Linked DNA regions of Homo sapiens. The protein of the gene in region 2 purifies or fractionates together with the protein of the main gene of each other region. This does not show direct contact. Each region holds a gene or a part of one and is shown on either strand. Other genes may lie near its edges.

What was found. Proteins that work in one complex are often made in the same cells at the same time.
Region 1: the proteins of SLC2A14 (region 2) and ADCY3 purify together in Homo sapiens (affinity purification with mass spectrometry; one large-scale study listed by BioGRID and IntAct). This does not show direct contact.

Annotation. Positions count from the first base shown.
Region 1 is NC_000002.12:24,836,738-24,840,237, forward strand, and holds part of ADCY3 (adenylate cyclase type 3), read right to left. Parts: intron 3,295-3,500; coding exon 3,136-3,294; intron 2,176-3,135; coding exon of another isoform or gene 2,110-2,175; intron 1,886-2,109; coding exon 1,708-1,885; intron 309-1,707; coding exon 180-308; intron 1-179.
Region 2 is NC_000012.12:7,831,416-7,834,915, reverse strand, and holds part of SLC2A14 (solute carrier family 2, facilitated glucose transporter member 14), read left to right. Parts: intron 1-2,101; coding exon 2,102-2,194; intron 2,195-3,151; coding exon 3,152-3,312; intron 3,313-3,500. UniProt on the Homo sapiens protein: Hexose transporter that can mediate the transport of glucose and dehydroascorbate across the cell membrane.

The sequences.
Region 1 (3,500 bases), on a different chromosome or scaffold from region 2:
GTGGGGTTTTGCGGGGCTGGAGGGGTGACCTGTCCATGGTTACAGTGCTAAGCAGGAGCAGGTCCTGGGTGGTGGCCAGGTCTCCCCAGCACAGGACTCCTGCTGCAGGAACGTATTGCTTCCTGGTGCCTGCCCGCATCTGGCCCTCAGTGACCCCCTGCCCTGAGCCCTGCACATACCTGGGCATCCTGCTCCTCGGGCTTCTCCGACGTGGACCCACTGCTGTGGGCACTCCCGTTGGGCTCCTTGGTCTCAATGAGGGCAGGGGAGCTGGACTTTGAGGAAGCTGGTGCTCCATTGGGCAGGGCCTAGAGGAAAGGAGAGCTCAGCCATGATCTGGGCATGGGATGAGAGTGGCGTGGACAGGTCTGGAAGTGACAAGGGCGTGGGAGGCGGTGGGATTAGAGAGCAATCTGAGGCCACAGAACTTGCTTGTGGATTGCAAAGTGAGGCGTCAAGGATGATTTCAAACTTTTTGGTCTGAGCAGTTGTTAATAAAAGGATGGAACTGCCATTAACTGAGATGGGAAGACCGAGGGAGAGCAGGTTATGGAGTGGGAAGGAGGGCAGGAGCTTTGGGCAGGTGGCATTTAAGATACCTATTATATGTACAAATGGAGACGTACAAGTGGCTGTATGTTGAGTGCAGGGAAGACACTGGGGGTGGAGATACAAATTTGGGAGTTGTCAGAGACAGCCTTTAAAATGACACTGGATGAGACTGACATCGAGGTTAGAATCAGCGGGGAGTATCAGCCTTCACTCCGGCAGCCTCACCAGAGTGGGCTTTGCTTTAGCCATAATTAGGCAAAGCCTCAGCCATAGAGCAGTCTCAAATGACACGACTTCCCTGACAGTCACCAAGCTCCTTAATTCCAAGTCTTGTTAGATGGACTCTCATAACTGGAGGAAAGGGTTTTGACATGAGATTACAAAAAATAAGACAACCTCCAGATTCAGCAGGGGATGGTAAAGGGATCCATTTCTGCAACAGCTGCTGGTGGTTTCTAATCAGACTGACAGGAGGTGTTTGGGGGTTGGTGGACAGACCTGGGGAAGCTGCTGAGTGCTTCAGGTCTGTAGATATTCGGGGGATCCCACAAAAAGACCAGAGGGCAGGCCCACAGGATGCACGATTGCAAGCTTGTTCAACCCACAGTATTTTTTGTTTGGCCCGAGACAATTCTTCTTCTTCCAATGTGGCCCAGGGAAGCCGAAAGATTAGACACCCCTGCTCTATTACTTCTATCTCATTCCTCCCTCATTTCCCACTCAGGAAACCTTCCTGGCCTTGGTCCTCCTCCCCCATGACCAGTCACCCCACCCCCACCCTCCTCTCTGAGCCTCTCCCTGAGCATCCACGTCACTCCTGTGGCTTCACTCACTTCCTCCATGCAGGAGACCCTGAGCCCCAACCCAGCTGCTCTCCTGGGCGCCACCGACACATCTCCAGCGGCCCCCTCCTGGATGTGGTCTTGGGATATGCTTCAGTCACCTCCATTGCAACCTGCCATGAATTACACTCACCATCTCCCCCAGAAACCAGCTCTCCCTTGGGAAGGGTGCCAGCCTGCCACTCACCTCTCACAGCCAGCCACTGCTGGGTCCTGCCACCTCTTCTGCAATCTTTCCTTAATCTCCTCCTTTCCAACCCCCTAATCCAGGGGTGGGGTGGGTGGGGTGGGTGGGGTGGGGTGGGGAACTCACCGAGCCATTGAGGCCATTCTGGGTGGCTGTTTTCTTCACCTCTGGCTTGGAGGCAATGATGAGGTAGGTTTCAATACCCTTCTCTTCTAGGTAATCACAGCGGCTGCCCCCATCGCCTGGCTCCACATCAAACTCCCCTTTCAGGCAGTCCATGGTGCTCTGGGAGATGTGCACGCGCCTGGATTGCAGAGAGAGAGGCCCTGAGCGTCGGCCAGAGGTGGCCCTCACACCCCCAGGGGACAGTCCACGGACCACGGCTGCACCGGCTGCTGCTCGGCCCCGTGTCTCTCGGGCATGTGGGGCAGAGGCCAAGTGGAGGCAGTTCTGCCACTAACTAGCTGTGTGGGCCGCTAACTAGCTGTGTGGGCCGCTAACTAGCTGTGTGGGCCGTATGGCACTTACTCCCATCTCAGCCTCAGTGTTGGAGCCACGACACAGGAGTACAATCTTTCTTCAATCTTTGATCCGCTGTAAAGCAGATCAAATGCGATAAGGAATTTTTTTTTTTTTTTTTTTGAGACAGAGTCTTGTTCTGTCGCCCAGGATGGAGTGCAGTGGCTTGATCTTGGCTCAGTGCAACCTCTGCCTCCCGGGTTCAAGCAATTCTCCTGCCTCAGCCTCCAGAGTAGCTGGAATTACAGGTGCACACCACCACACCCGACTAATTCTGTATTTTTAGTAGAGATGGGGTTTCGTCATGTTGGTCAGGCTGGTCTCAAACTCTTGACCTCAGGTGATCTACCCACCTCGGCCTCCCAAAGTGCTGGGATTACAGGCGTGAGCCACAAGATCCAATTATCCCCCACCTTGCACGTTTCTCAGTTGCAACCCCTGCTGCCAAGAGATAATAAAACCTGTTTCTGAGGAGTCACCACTGAGGCCAAGAATCCTAAATGCCACTGAAGGAAGCTCCCTGGCCCAGATGGGGAAGGCTGGGCTGATCCTCCCTCAGCCTCGCCCTGCTAAAGGCAGGGCCTCCATTATCCTGTAAGGGAGCTCAAGTAAGGCGTGTAATCGCACTGCGACCTGCAAAACGCTGCCTGCGAGCCCGCTAGCTGATGACTGCTCATTACTCTCCCTTTGGGGAGACCTGGGCTCTGACATAAGGAGAGCTGGGGCAGCCCCCTTAGTGGGTAAAGGGGAGGCAGCCCCCTAAGTCGGTAAAGGGGACAGGAGGACAGGCTACTGCAGGGTCCAGGAAGGAAAAGCCACATCCAATATCAGGCCCAAAGAGGCCTCACCCCAAGGCAGGTCAGAACGGCCTTAGCCAGGGCCAGGACCAGGGCGAGACAGGAGGAATGCTGTTCCGGGGTTGTAGGGAGGCCTTCTCTGAGGCCCCCTGTCCCTCATCAGGGTCACAGCCCTGGGGGATGGAGGGGACGGTCCCCTCCCCAGTCCTCAAACCTGCCCCCTTGGAATGGCACTCACCCAGGGATGCCGCCGGCCTCCATCTTGTTGGCTACAGTGACATCAGTCGACCACACGTCGTACTGCCAGCGCTTCTGGCCCAGGACGCCCCCCAGCACGGTGCCCGTGTGCACCCCCACACGCATGTCCACCCCAGTCTTGGTCTTCTCCCGCACATACCTGCCAGGTACACACAGAAAGGAGGGTCAGGGTGTGGCCTTCACGAGGCAGCCAGCTGCCCCTGCTCCTGCAGGAGAAATTCATTGTGGGCCTCTTCCCCTCCACAAGAGGGGGCCTGGCAAGGTCCCCACAGCTTGGTGTTGGGTGGGGGGTAAGGCAGGCCAGGGCCAGCCCAGAGTCAGGCATCACAGGCCAGCAGGACGAGG
Region 2 (3,500 bases):
CGAAGCACATCAACAAACAGTTATATTGAGCAACTCTTCTCTAGTGGCCAGGGTGAAGGACTATCTAAGCTTGGACATCTCTGTTGCTTTGGGGGCCAGCCCAGTGCAGAACTGGTTTTTGAGCATCAGGTTCCTCCTAGGTGCCATTTGCCCAAGGAACACTTGTCTCAATATGCTCAACACACTTTTTTTTTCTTTTTTGAGGCAGGGTCTCACTCTGTTGCCCAGGCTGCATAGCTCACTGCAGCTTCTATCTCCTGGGCTCAAGTGATCCTCCCACCCCAGCCTCCCAAGTAGCTGGGTCTATAGGCACCTGCCATTACCATACCCAGCTAATTTTTTTTTTTTTTTTGATAGAGAAGGGGTCTCAAAAAAAAAAAAAAAAGAGAGAGAGAAGGGGTCTCACTGTGTTGTCCAGGCTGGTCTCTCAAACTGCTAGGCTCAAGTGATCCTTCTGCCTCGACCTCCCAAAGGGCTGGGATTATAGATGTGAGCCACTGTGCCCAGGTCAACACATTTTTTAGATTCTCAAGACTCAGTTTAATTCCAATTGTAACCTTTAAAAATAATCCCAGCATTTGGGAGCTAAGGCATGAGGATCACTTGAGGCTGGGAGTTTGAGACCAGCCTTGGGCAATACAGTGAGATCCCATCTCTACAAAAAAGAAAGAAAATGAAGGAAAATAAGAGAAGGGATGGAAAGTTATGAGACTAATGAAAAAAAAAAGGCTCTCAAAGATAGTGAATGATGAGAGGAGAAAGAAAGGACTTTTACTAAAAAGAAAAAGATTTAACAGAGAGCATTGTACTGGCAGGGCCCTCCAGGGTATCGATGCTTAGTTGTGACTGAGACATCTGAGAGGCCGCAGGCAAGGTCAGTTCTACTGAAGCTTTCAGCCTGTGGTCTACCCTGTCTGACCTGAAAGGAAAGGAATTTAAGATAGGAAAGGTTGAAGGGATTGGTGGGGGTGCGGGAAAGGACATAGAAGATGGCTTCAGGTATAGAAATTGAGCTGCCCCAAGGTGGAAATCTAAAATAATATCCACTTGCCCAGCTGAATTATTCCAGGCAAGGTGAAGACGACTGGTTCTCCCCACTAAGAAATGTCTCTCTCTCTCTTTTTTTTTTTTTTTGAGACAGAGTCTTGCTCTGTTGCCCAGGTTGGAGTGCAGTGGCACGGTCTCGGCTCACTGCAACCTCCGCCTCTCAGGGTCAAGCGATCCTCCTGCTTCAGCCCCTCCTAGTAGCTGGGATTACAGGCACACCCCACCATGCCCTGCTAATTTTTGTATTTTTAGTAGAGATGGGGTTTCACCATGTTGGCCAGGCTGGTCTCGAACTCCTGATCTCAGGTGATCCACCTGCCTTGGCCCACCTGCCTTGGCCTCCCAAAGTGCTGGGATGACAGGCATGAGCCACCGTGCCCGGCCAGAAATGTCTTATTTGTTAGGTTTGTAGTGAGCCGAGTGTTCTTTCTTCCCCCACCCGGGGGTTAGGTTAGGGATAGCAGAACAGTATTTAATAAACCAGAAGACTGAAATGGGGCCAGGATGCAGTGAGTAGATCCAGTAGGTTACATGGTCCTGAGAGATAAGAGACTCAAAGAGCCACCCAGCAGTGAAGACACAAACTACTACCACCTCCCCCTACCACCACCACTGGGCTTCCGTGGAGTCTGGGGTACAGATCAGACTGCACTGTATTTGTTTCCAAAATGATCAATTCTTAGTAATCCTACCCAAGGCTGTGTTGTCCTCTTTCCTCCCAGTTCGTGAGTGGAATTCTATGCCTACCTTCACCTGATGCAGGTTTTTAAATATTTCCAAACTGACCAACCCAGTTTCTCTTAACTTCTTCCTTCTCCAATTTTCTTTTCCACTTTTACCAAGTTAACTTCACATTCTTATCTCCAGATAAGTTCTTTAGTATAATCTATTACTTTGTCTTCCCGATTAATTACCTAAATCTCGTTTGATGTTTGTCCTTTTCATACCACTCATAGGTCAGATTCTCCTAATACAGCTCCATAATTAATAAGAAACAGTCATCAATTACAAGTTTTAAGGACTATTCTCTCCTCCCTGTCCTCTGTCTCTCCAGGTCACCCCAGCTCTGATCTTTGCCATCACAGTTGCTACAATCGGCTCTTTCCAGTTTGGCTACAACACTGGGGTCATCAATGCTCCTGAGACGGTGAGTGCCAGGCCACAAGAATTAGAATCTGGAATAGGGAAATTATTCCTTTAAGTAGGGTTTCAAGAATTCAGAATTTAAGGCCAGGCATGGTGGCACCTGCCTGGAGTCCCAGCTACTCCGGAGGCTGAGGCTTAAAGATCACTTGAGCCCAGGAGTTAAACACCATCCTGAGCAACACAGTTAGTGAGGGTCCCTCCCCCAACTAGGGGAATTAAACTTTGTATCTATCCTGTCCAAGACTGAAGATGGAGACAATATTGGTGGGGAAAATTAGTGGGGTCATTTAATCAAAGGAAAAAGGTCATTTACTCCTTATACCCTGGGCAGTGCTGTTCTTCCTCCCACTCTTTCACCCTATAGTAATACACTTCCTGTATTATCCCTTAGGGGTTAGTTACCAAGCTGGCCAGGTTCGCTTAGCAGAGGGCTGGGGTGAACATCAGTGCTGCCACCTACTGGGATATTCAGGACAAATGAAAAATTACTATTCCAGGGAGAGTTAACATTAATTCCAATATGTTATCTGCCTCTTCAATTCCCGTCTATTTATTCCCTTGATTCTCTAGGGAGGAAATGATCCCTAATATTTGTTTTGTTTGTTTGTTTGTTTTGAGATGTAGTCTCGCTCTGTCACCCAGGCCGGAGTGCAATGGCGCTATCTCGGCTCATCGCAAACTCCGCCCCACGGGTTCAAGCGATTCTCCTACCTCAGCCTCCCGAGTAGCTGGGATTACAGGCATGCGCCACCACAACTGGCTAATTTTGTATTTTTAGTAGAGACGGGGTTTCACCATGTTGGTCAGGTTGGTCTGCAACTCCTGACCTCAGGTGATCCACCCGCCTCGGCCTTCCAAAGTGCTGGGATTACAGGCGTGAGCCACTGCACCCAGCATATTTGTATCTTTTGTTCTCATCCAACTGTAATAGTCTGTCCTCCCACCTTTTATTTTGCAGATCATAAAGGAATTTATCAATAAAACTTTGACGGACAAGGCAAATGCCCCTCCCTCTGAGGTGCTGCTCACGAATCTCTGGTCCTTGTCTGTGGCCATATTTTCCGTCGGGGGTATGATCGGCTCCTTTTCCGTCGGACTCTTTGTTAACCGCTTTGGCAGGTATTGACTAGAAACTGGGCAAGGAAGTGGGCTCTACCAGATGCATTGGGGACAAGTGTGGAGAGTTAGGGCAGGGAGGTGATGATGCCTTTGAATAAGAACACCTTGAATTCTAATCAAGGGAAACTAGCCCAACTGGCCCCGAATATGACTGCCCTTGCTTGGAGCTCTACTACCCTGGAGAGCTC